Homo sapiens: one gene and its partner. The protein of the gene in region 2 purifies or fractionates together with the protein of the main gene of each other region. This does not show direct contact. Each region holds a gene or a part of one and is shown on either strand. Other genes may lie near its edges.

What was found.
Region 1: the proteins of GBP6 (region 2) and SIRT5 purify together in Homo sapiens (affinity purification with mass spectrometry; one large-scale study listed by BioGRID and IntAct). This does not show direct contact.

Annotation. Positions count from the first base shown.
Region 1 is NC_000006.12:13,598,519-13,602,349, reverse strand, and holds part of SIRT5 (NAD-dependent protein deacylase sirtuin-5, mitochondrial), read right to left. Parts: intron 3,321-3,831; exon of another isoform or gene 3,319-3,320; coding exon 3,195-3,318; exon of another isoform or gene 2,709-3,194; intron 1,517-2,708; coding exon 1,401-1,516; intron 1,270-1,400; coding exon of another isoform or gene 1,230-1,269; exon of another isoform or gene 713-1,229; intron 1-712. UniProt on the Homo sapiens protein: NAD-dependent lysine demalonylase, desuccinylase and deglutarylase that specifically removes malonyl, succinyl and glutaryl groups on target proteins.
Region 2 is NC_000001.11:89,370,410-89,374,240, reverse strand, and holds part of GBP6 (guanylate-binding protein 6), read right to left. Parts: intron 1-3,831.

The DNA of each region.
Region 1 (3,831 bases), on a different chromosome or scaffold from region 2:
ACATAGTAAGTTTTGAAATTGGGAAGTATGAGTTCTCCAACTTCATTTTTCATTTTGTTTTGGCTATTTTGGGTCCCTTGCATTTTCATATGAATTTTAGATTAATCTTTTCAATTAATTGCTGTCAAAAGCCAGTTGTGATTTTGATAGGGACTGAGTTGATTGAGCCCATAGATCAATTTGGGGAGCATTGCCATCTTAATCATATTAAGTTGTCCAATCCATGAACACTGGATATGTTTCCATTCATTTAGGCCTTCCTTATTTCTTTCAATAATGTTCTGTAGTTTTCAGAGTATAAGTTTTGCATAGGAGGCAATTTTTTTTTAAGGCTATCTTCTTAGTTCCTACTACTCACACACAGATGAAGAACTATGGATCAAGAACACAGGCTGTAGCTGATCAAAAAGACACATGGAAAAGAAGAGGCTCAGAGCCAGTTCACTCACTTGAGGAGGGGCCTACTGAAGTGTCTGTGGCCCCTTTTCTTTCTTTTTTCTTTTTTTTTTTTAAATCCCAGCAAAGACTTAGAAGAGTGGTTCCTATCCTGGCTGCACACAGGAATCACCTAGGAAGCTTATCAAAATGATGATGTCTGGGCTGCAACTCAGAGCAATGACATCGAAATTTCATGAGGTGGCACCCAGGCATCAGTATTTTTAAAATATGCAGCCAAGGTTGGAAACTGTTGATTAAAGTAATGACAAGATGGTTCAATGAAGTTTTCTATTTTATTCATTTATATTAATTTACTACTTATTTATATTCTAACTTATTCAAAAGGAATTAACTAGATGGACAAGAATTAGAGGTAAAAGCAAAAAAAAGTTGGGGTGAGAAAAAAGACAGAACATGGATGAAGAAATAAAACAGACCCAGGAATAAGACTAAAAATGCATACTATGACAATCTACACTTCCCACCCAAACTTGGGAAGCAGGATCAGTGTCATAATATGGCCACAGATACAAATAACCTTGGCGATTAGACCAAAGGGGTATCTGCCAGGTGGCCTCCCAGTAAGAACGGCAGGTGATGAGGTTCTGCAAGGGCATCTCCCAGGCTTACTTGCGGAGCATTTGGGTAACCTACAACTACAGGTCATCACTAAGTCTAGCTTAAAAATGTAAGGGAAAGCAAAGCCTAAGGAATCCAAGAAGAGCGTTCAAAATGTGAACAAACAAAAGTCCCACGGCAAATTTCGCATACAATGACAGAGCTACCCTACCTTAGTCTACAGTGAATGATTTTGTTCTTCCATAAAAGCAACTGCAGATCAAACAAAAAAACACAAACCCTATGTCTTTTTTAAAAATTAGAGGAGTAGGTCAACTATGTTTAGATGACCATGTCTGTACCTGCCTCCCACATCTCCCTCTCCCATCAGGGTATCCCAGTACCTGAATCTGTTCGTAGCTGGGGTGGTCTCCGTGTTAAATTCAGCCACTGGCACGCCCCTGGCAGCCACCTGGGGGGCAAACATGGCTGCTGGGTACACCACAGAGGAAGTGCCCACCTACAAGGCAAGTACACGGAGATGAACAAACAGCCAGACGACAAGGAGAAGGAACATTATTTCAGAAAACCTTACACAAACTCAGGCAGGTCTGTGGTTGCAGGTGTGAGAAAAGCCAAACAGGATGGGATAAAACAGGGTGTCCAAGGGACAAGGGAAAGTGAAGAGGTGTCCTTTGATCAATCACTAGAATCGAGAAGAATATGTGACATGAAAAGGAGAGTTATGCAAAGAGTGACATAGAAGTGACTCAATCAACATGTTTTGGGGTTAATTCTGGTTTTGTTTCTGCTTTTTAAAGTTAAACAAATGATCCATAACTTTTTAAAACATATTTTCTATCTTTTTGTTTAAGGTAGAAAATACGAAGAAAAAAACATACATATCATCCATAATCTTACCGCAAGATAACCACTGTTAACATTTTCATGTATGTCCTCTTAGGTTTTCTCTTATAAATATTTGCTTATAAACATTCTTTACAGGGATGGGAAGAGCATGACCTGTTTTGTAAACCGGCTTTTCTCATTTAACAATCCATCATCAACAGTGGCACTATACTCAACACTGGGAAGCATTCTTTAAATACTGGCTGAATGAATACGCACCACAAGAAAGTGCCTCTGCTTTTAAAGACGTGTCAAGAAAAATTTGAAATACGCATACAATCTGTCCAATGAATCCCACTTTTAGGAAATGTGTCCTAAGGAAATCATTTGAAGAGCATGCTAAGATTTCTATCTAAGGATATTCACGATATCATTGATTAAACTATCAAAATTTGAAATAGCCCAAATGTCTTACAGTAGAGAATTAGCTAAATATATCATTCCTTATCCATATATAACACCATACAGTCAATTGAAAGATGATATTGATTTAGACATATTGATATGGAACATGCTAAGTGAACTGCTGCGTGAACAAAGTAGTTTCAAAACAGAACATATGTCATGAACTCAGTTTTGAATTTTAATTAATACGTGTACATCTGCATAAGAAAAGGTTTAGACCAGAGGTGGGCAAACTTATTCTGAAAATGACCATACAGTAAATTTTTCAGGCTTTGCAGGCCATTCAATCTCTGTCACAAGTACTCAACTCTGCCACTTGTAGTTTGAAAGTAGTCATAGACAGTGTGTGGAAGAATGAGTGTGGCTGAGTTCCAATAAAACTTTATTTCCAAAAACAGGTAGCAGGCCCAATGTGGCCCAAAGGCTGCTGTTTGCTCACTCCTGGGTCTAGAAGAAAACATACTAAACTGCTAACGGTAACTATTTCTGGATAGCAGAACTATGGGCGATTTCTAATTTCCTCTTTATAATGTGATAATTTTTGCATGTTCTCAATTAAATTTAATCATAAGCATGTATTATTTAAAAAACCAATAGCATGTTCTTTTCTTTGTTTTTGGTGGGGCTGGGGGAGGAGGCTTTGAGATGCCCAAGACATGCATGGTTTCCTATTTTAATACAAATTCTTATTCATTGTTTCTCAGTTTTTCTATAGGATACCACAAAGACCTCTCAACATACATTTGAAGGAAAGGAAGAAATGGAGGGAGGAGAGAAGGCGGGAAGGAAAGAAGCAAGGGAGGGAGGAAGGAAAAGAGGAGAGGGGGAAGGAAAAAATAACAAACTCCAGTCCTGTCCTGGGGTTAGGGAAGGGCATGACCCACCACTAGACATAAATCACAGTGGGCGAGCTCTCTGTCAACCTCCTCCAGAATGGCAGGATCCAGGTTTTCTCCAAACCACACGACGTGAGGTCGCAGCAAGCCCCCGCAGCCTGCCTCTTCACACCTGGAAGAATGGGATCCTTAAGCCAACCCCGAGCCAAGTCTGCCCAGCTGGATCGGAGGGAGGCCAGGGGCTGCCCCAAACCTAGTACATCCAGATGGGTCACCTCTGATGCCTCTTATTCCCTACACCCTCCCTCCCAGCCTATATAAACTTGCCTTGCTTATGAAGCATCAGGTTTAATGGTCTTTTTTTTTTTTTTTTTTTTTGAGACGGAGTCTCACTCTGCTGCCCAGGCGGAAGTGCAATGCCATGGTCTCCGCTCACTGCAACCTCTGCCTCCCAGGTTCAAGCAATTCTGCCTCAGCCTCCCGAGCAGCTGGGACTACAGTCATGTGTGACCACACCCAGCTAATTTTCGTATTCTTAGTAGAGACATGTTTCACCACATTCGCCGGGCTGGTCTCAAACTGCTGACCTCAGGTGATCTGCCCTCCTCGGCCTCCCAAAGTGCTGGGATTACAGGCATGAGCCACCGCGCCCTGCAGAACTGTCCTTATTTTTTATCTTGTCTGT
Region 2 (3,831 bases):
ATTGCTCTAGTCCGTTCTCATGCTGCCCAATAAAGACATACACGAGACTGGACAATTTACACAGGAAAGAGGTTTGACTCACAGGTCAGCATGGCTAGGGAGGCCTCAGGAAACTTACAATCATGGTGGAAGGGGAAGCAAACACATCCTTCTTCACATGGTAGCAGGAGAGAGAAGAATGATAGCCAAGTAAAGGGGGAATCCCCTTATAAAATGATCAGCTCTCATGAGAACTTACTCACTATCACGAGAATAGCATGGGGAAACCACCCACATGATTCAATTACCTCCCACCAGGTCCCTCCCACGACATGCGGGGATTATGGGAACTACAATTCAAGATGAGATTTGGGTGAGGACACAGCCAAACTATCCATAGCATGCATATATATATTTATTGAATATATATATAATTTATATATTTTTATTATACTTTAAGTTCTAGGGTACATGTGCACAACATGCAGGTTTGTTACATATGTATACATGTGCCATGTTGGTGTGCTGCACCCATTAACTCATCATTTACATTAGGTATATCTCCTAATGCTATCCCTCCCTGCTCCTGCCACCTCACGACAGGCCCTGGTGTGTGATGTTCCCCACCCTGTGTCCAAGTGTTTTCATTGTTCAATTCCCACCTATGAGTGAGAACATGTGGTGTTTGGTTTTTTGTCCTTGTGATAGTTTGCTGAGAATGATGGTTTCCAGCTTCATCCATGTGCCTACAAAGGACATGAACTCATCATTTTTTATGGCTGCATAGTATTCCATGGTGTATATGTGCCACATTTTCTTAATCCAGTCTATCACTGATGGACATCTGGGTTGGTTCCAAGTCTTTGCTACTGTGAATAGTGCCGCAATAAACATACATGTGCATGTGTCTTTATAGCAGCATGATCTATAATCCTTTGGGTATATACCCAGTAATGAGATGGCTGGGTCAAATGGTATTTCTAGTTCTAGATCCTTGAGGAATCGCCACACTGTCTTCCACAATGGTTGAACTAGTTTACGGTCCCACCAACAGTGTAAAAGTGTTCCTATTTCTCCACATCCTCTCCAGCACTTGTTGCTTCCTGACTTTTTAATGATCACCATTCTAATTGGTGTGAGATGGTATCTCATTGTGGTTTTGATTTGCATTTCTCTGATGGCCAGTGATGATGAGCGTTTTTTCATGTGTCTGCTGGGTGCATAAATGTCTTCTTTTGAGAAGTGTCTGTTCATATCCTTTGCCCACTTTTTGATGGGGTTGTTTGTTTTTTTCTTGTAAATTTGTTTGAGTTCATTGTAGATTCTGGATATTAGCCCTTTGTCAGATGAGTCAATTGCAAAAATTTTCTCCCATTCTGTAGGTTGCCTGTTCACTCTGATGGTAGTTTCTTTTGCTGTGCAGAAGCTCTTTAGTTTAATTAGATCCCATTTGTCAATTTTGGCTTTTGTTGCCATTGCTTTTGGTGTTTTAGACATGAAGTCTTTGCCCATGCCTATGTCCTAAATGGTATTGCCTAGGTTCTCTTCTAGAGTTTTTATGGGTTTAGGCTTAACATTTAAGTCTTTAATCCATCTTGAATTAATTTTTGTATAAGGTGTAAGGAAGGGATCCAGTTTCAGCTTTCTATATATGGCTAGCCAGTTTTCCCAGCACCATTTATCAAATAGGGAATCCTTTCCCTATTTCTTGTTCTTGTCAGGTTTGTCAAAGATCAGATGGTTGTAGATGTGTGGTATTATTTCTGAGAGCTCTGTCCTGTTCCATTGATCTATATCTCTGTTTTTGTACCAGTACCATGCTATTTTGGTTACTGTAGCCTTGTAGTATAGTTTGAAGTCAGGTAGCATGATGCCTCCAACTTTGTTCTTTTGGCTTAGGACTGTCTTGGCAATGTGGGCTCTTTTTTGGTTCCATATGAACTTTAAAGTAGTTTTTCCAATTCTCTGAAGAAAGTCATTGGTAGTTTGATGGGGATGGCATTGAATCTATAAATTACCTTGGGCCGTATGGCCATTTCCACAATATTGATTCTTCCTATCCATGAGCATGGAATGCTCTTCCATTTGTTTGTGTCCTCTTTTATTTCATTGCACAGTGGTTTGTAGTTCTCCTTGAAGAGGTCCTTCACATCCCTTGTAAGTTGGATTCCTAGGTATTTTATTCTCTTTGAAGCAATTGTGAATGGGAGTTCATTCATGATTTGGCTCTCTGTTTGTCTGTTATTGGTGTGTAAGAATGCTTGTGATTTTTGCACATTGATTTTGTATCCTGAGACTTTGCTGAAGTTGCTTATCAGCTTAAGGAGATTTTGGGCTGAGATGATGTGGTTTTCTAGATATACAATCATGTCATCTGCAAACAGGGACAATTTGACTTCCTCTTTTCCTAATTGAATACCCTTTATTTCTTTCTCCTGCCTTATTGCCCTGGCCAGAACTTCCAACACTATGTTGAATAGGAGTGGTGAGAGAGGGCATCCCTGTCTTGTGCCAGTTTTCAAAGGGAATGCTTCCAGTTTTTGTCCATTCAGTCTGATATTGGCTGTGGGTTTGACATAAATAGCTCTTATTATTTTGAAATACGTCCCATCAATACCTAATTTATTGAGAGTTTTTAGCATGAAGAGCTGTTGGATTTTGTCAAAGGCCTTTTCTGCATCTATTGAGATAATCATGTGGTTTTTGTGTTTGGTTCTCTTTTTATGCTGGATTATGTTTATTGATTTGCATATGTTGAACCAGCCTTGCATCCCAGGGATGAAGCCCACTTGATCATGGTGGATAAGCTTTTTGATGTGCTGCTGGATTCGGTTTGCCAGTATTTTATTGAGGATTTTTGCATTGATGTTCATCAGGGATATTGGTCCAAAATTCTCTTTTTTTGTTGTTGTGTCTCTGCCAGGCTTTGGTATCAGGATGATGCTGGCCTCATAAAATGAGTTAGGGAGGATTCCATCTTTTTCTATTGATTGGAATAGTTTCAGAAGGAATGGTACCAGCTCCTCCTTGTACCTCTGGTAGAATTCAGCTGCGAATCCGTCTATATATATTCAATCTCAAAAAAGGGAATTTTGTCATTTGCAACAACATAGATGAACACTGAGGTCGTTATGCTAAGTGAAATAAGTCAGACATAGAAAGACAAATACTGCATGATCTCACCTATTTGTGGAATCTAAAATAGTCAAATAGTTAAACTCATAGCAGCAGAGTATAATAGTGGTTGCCAGGGGCTGGGGATGCGAGAAATGAAGAAATGTTGGTGACAGAGTTCAAAATTTCAGTTATGAAAGATAAATAAACTCTGGAGATCTACCGTACAGCAGTGTGACTATAAGTAACAATACTATATTGATTGTGACCTTCACTTCCGCTAAGAGGACAGATCTTAATTGTTCTTACCACACCAAAAAATAAAAAGAGAGCATAGAAAAAAGAAAACGGTAACTATGTGAGGTAACAGCTATATTATTGGCTGGATTGTGGTGATCATTTCACAGTGTATACACATACCAAAACATTAAGTTGTACAGCTTAATTATATATAATTTTTATTTGTCAATTATACAACACTAAAGCAGAAAAATAAACAGAATTTCTAACGCCTGTTTGGGCAAAAATAAAGTGTATAGAAATTTAGAACCCATTCCCAAATAACTCTCAAAGTAAGATAATAAAAGAGAGAAATTATTTATTTCACCCATTCATAAGAAGCTAAATATCAAAAATTCATCTTATAATGTTTATTGTAGGAAGAACAAATACTTTTTTATGATGAGCACAATCAGAAATGTCTCAAAGCCTTCCAGAATGCTCTGTGGGTAATTGATG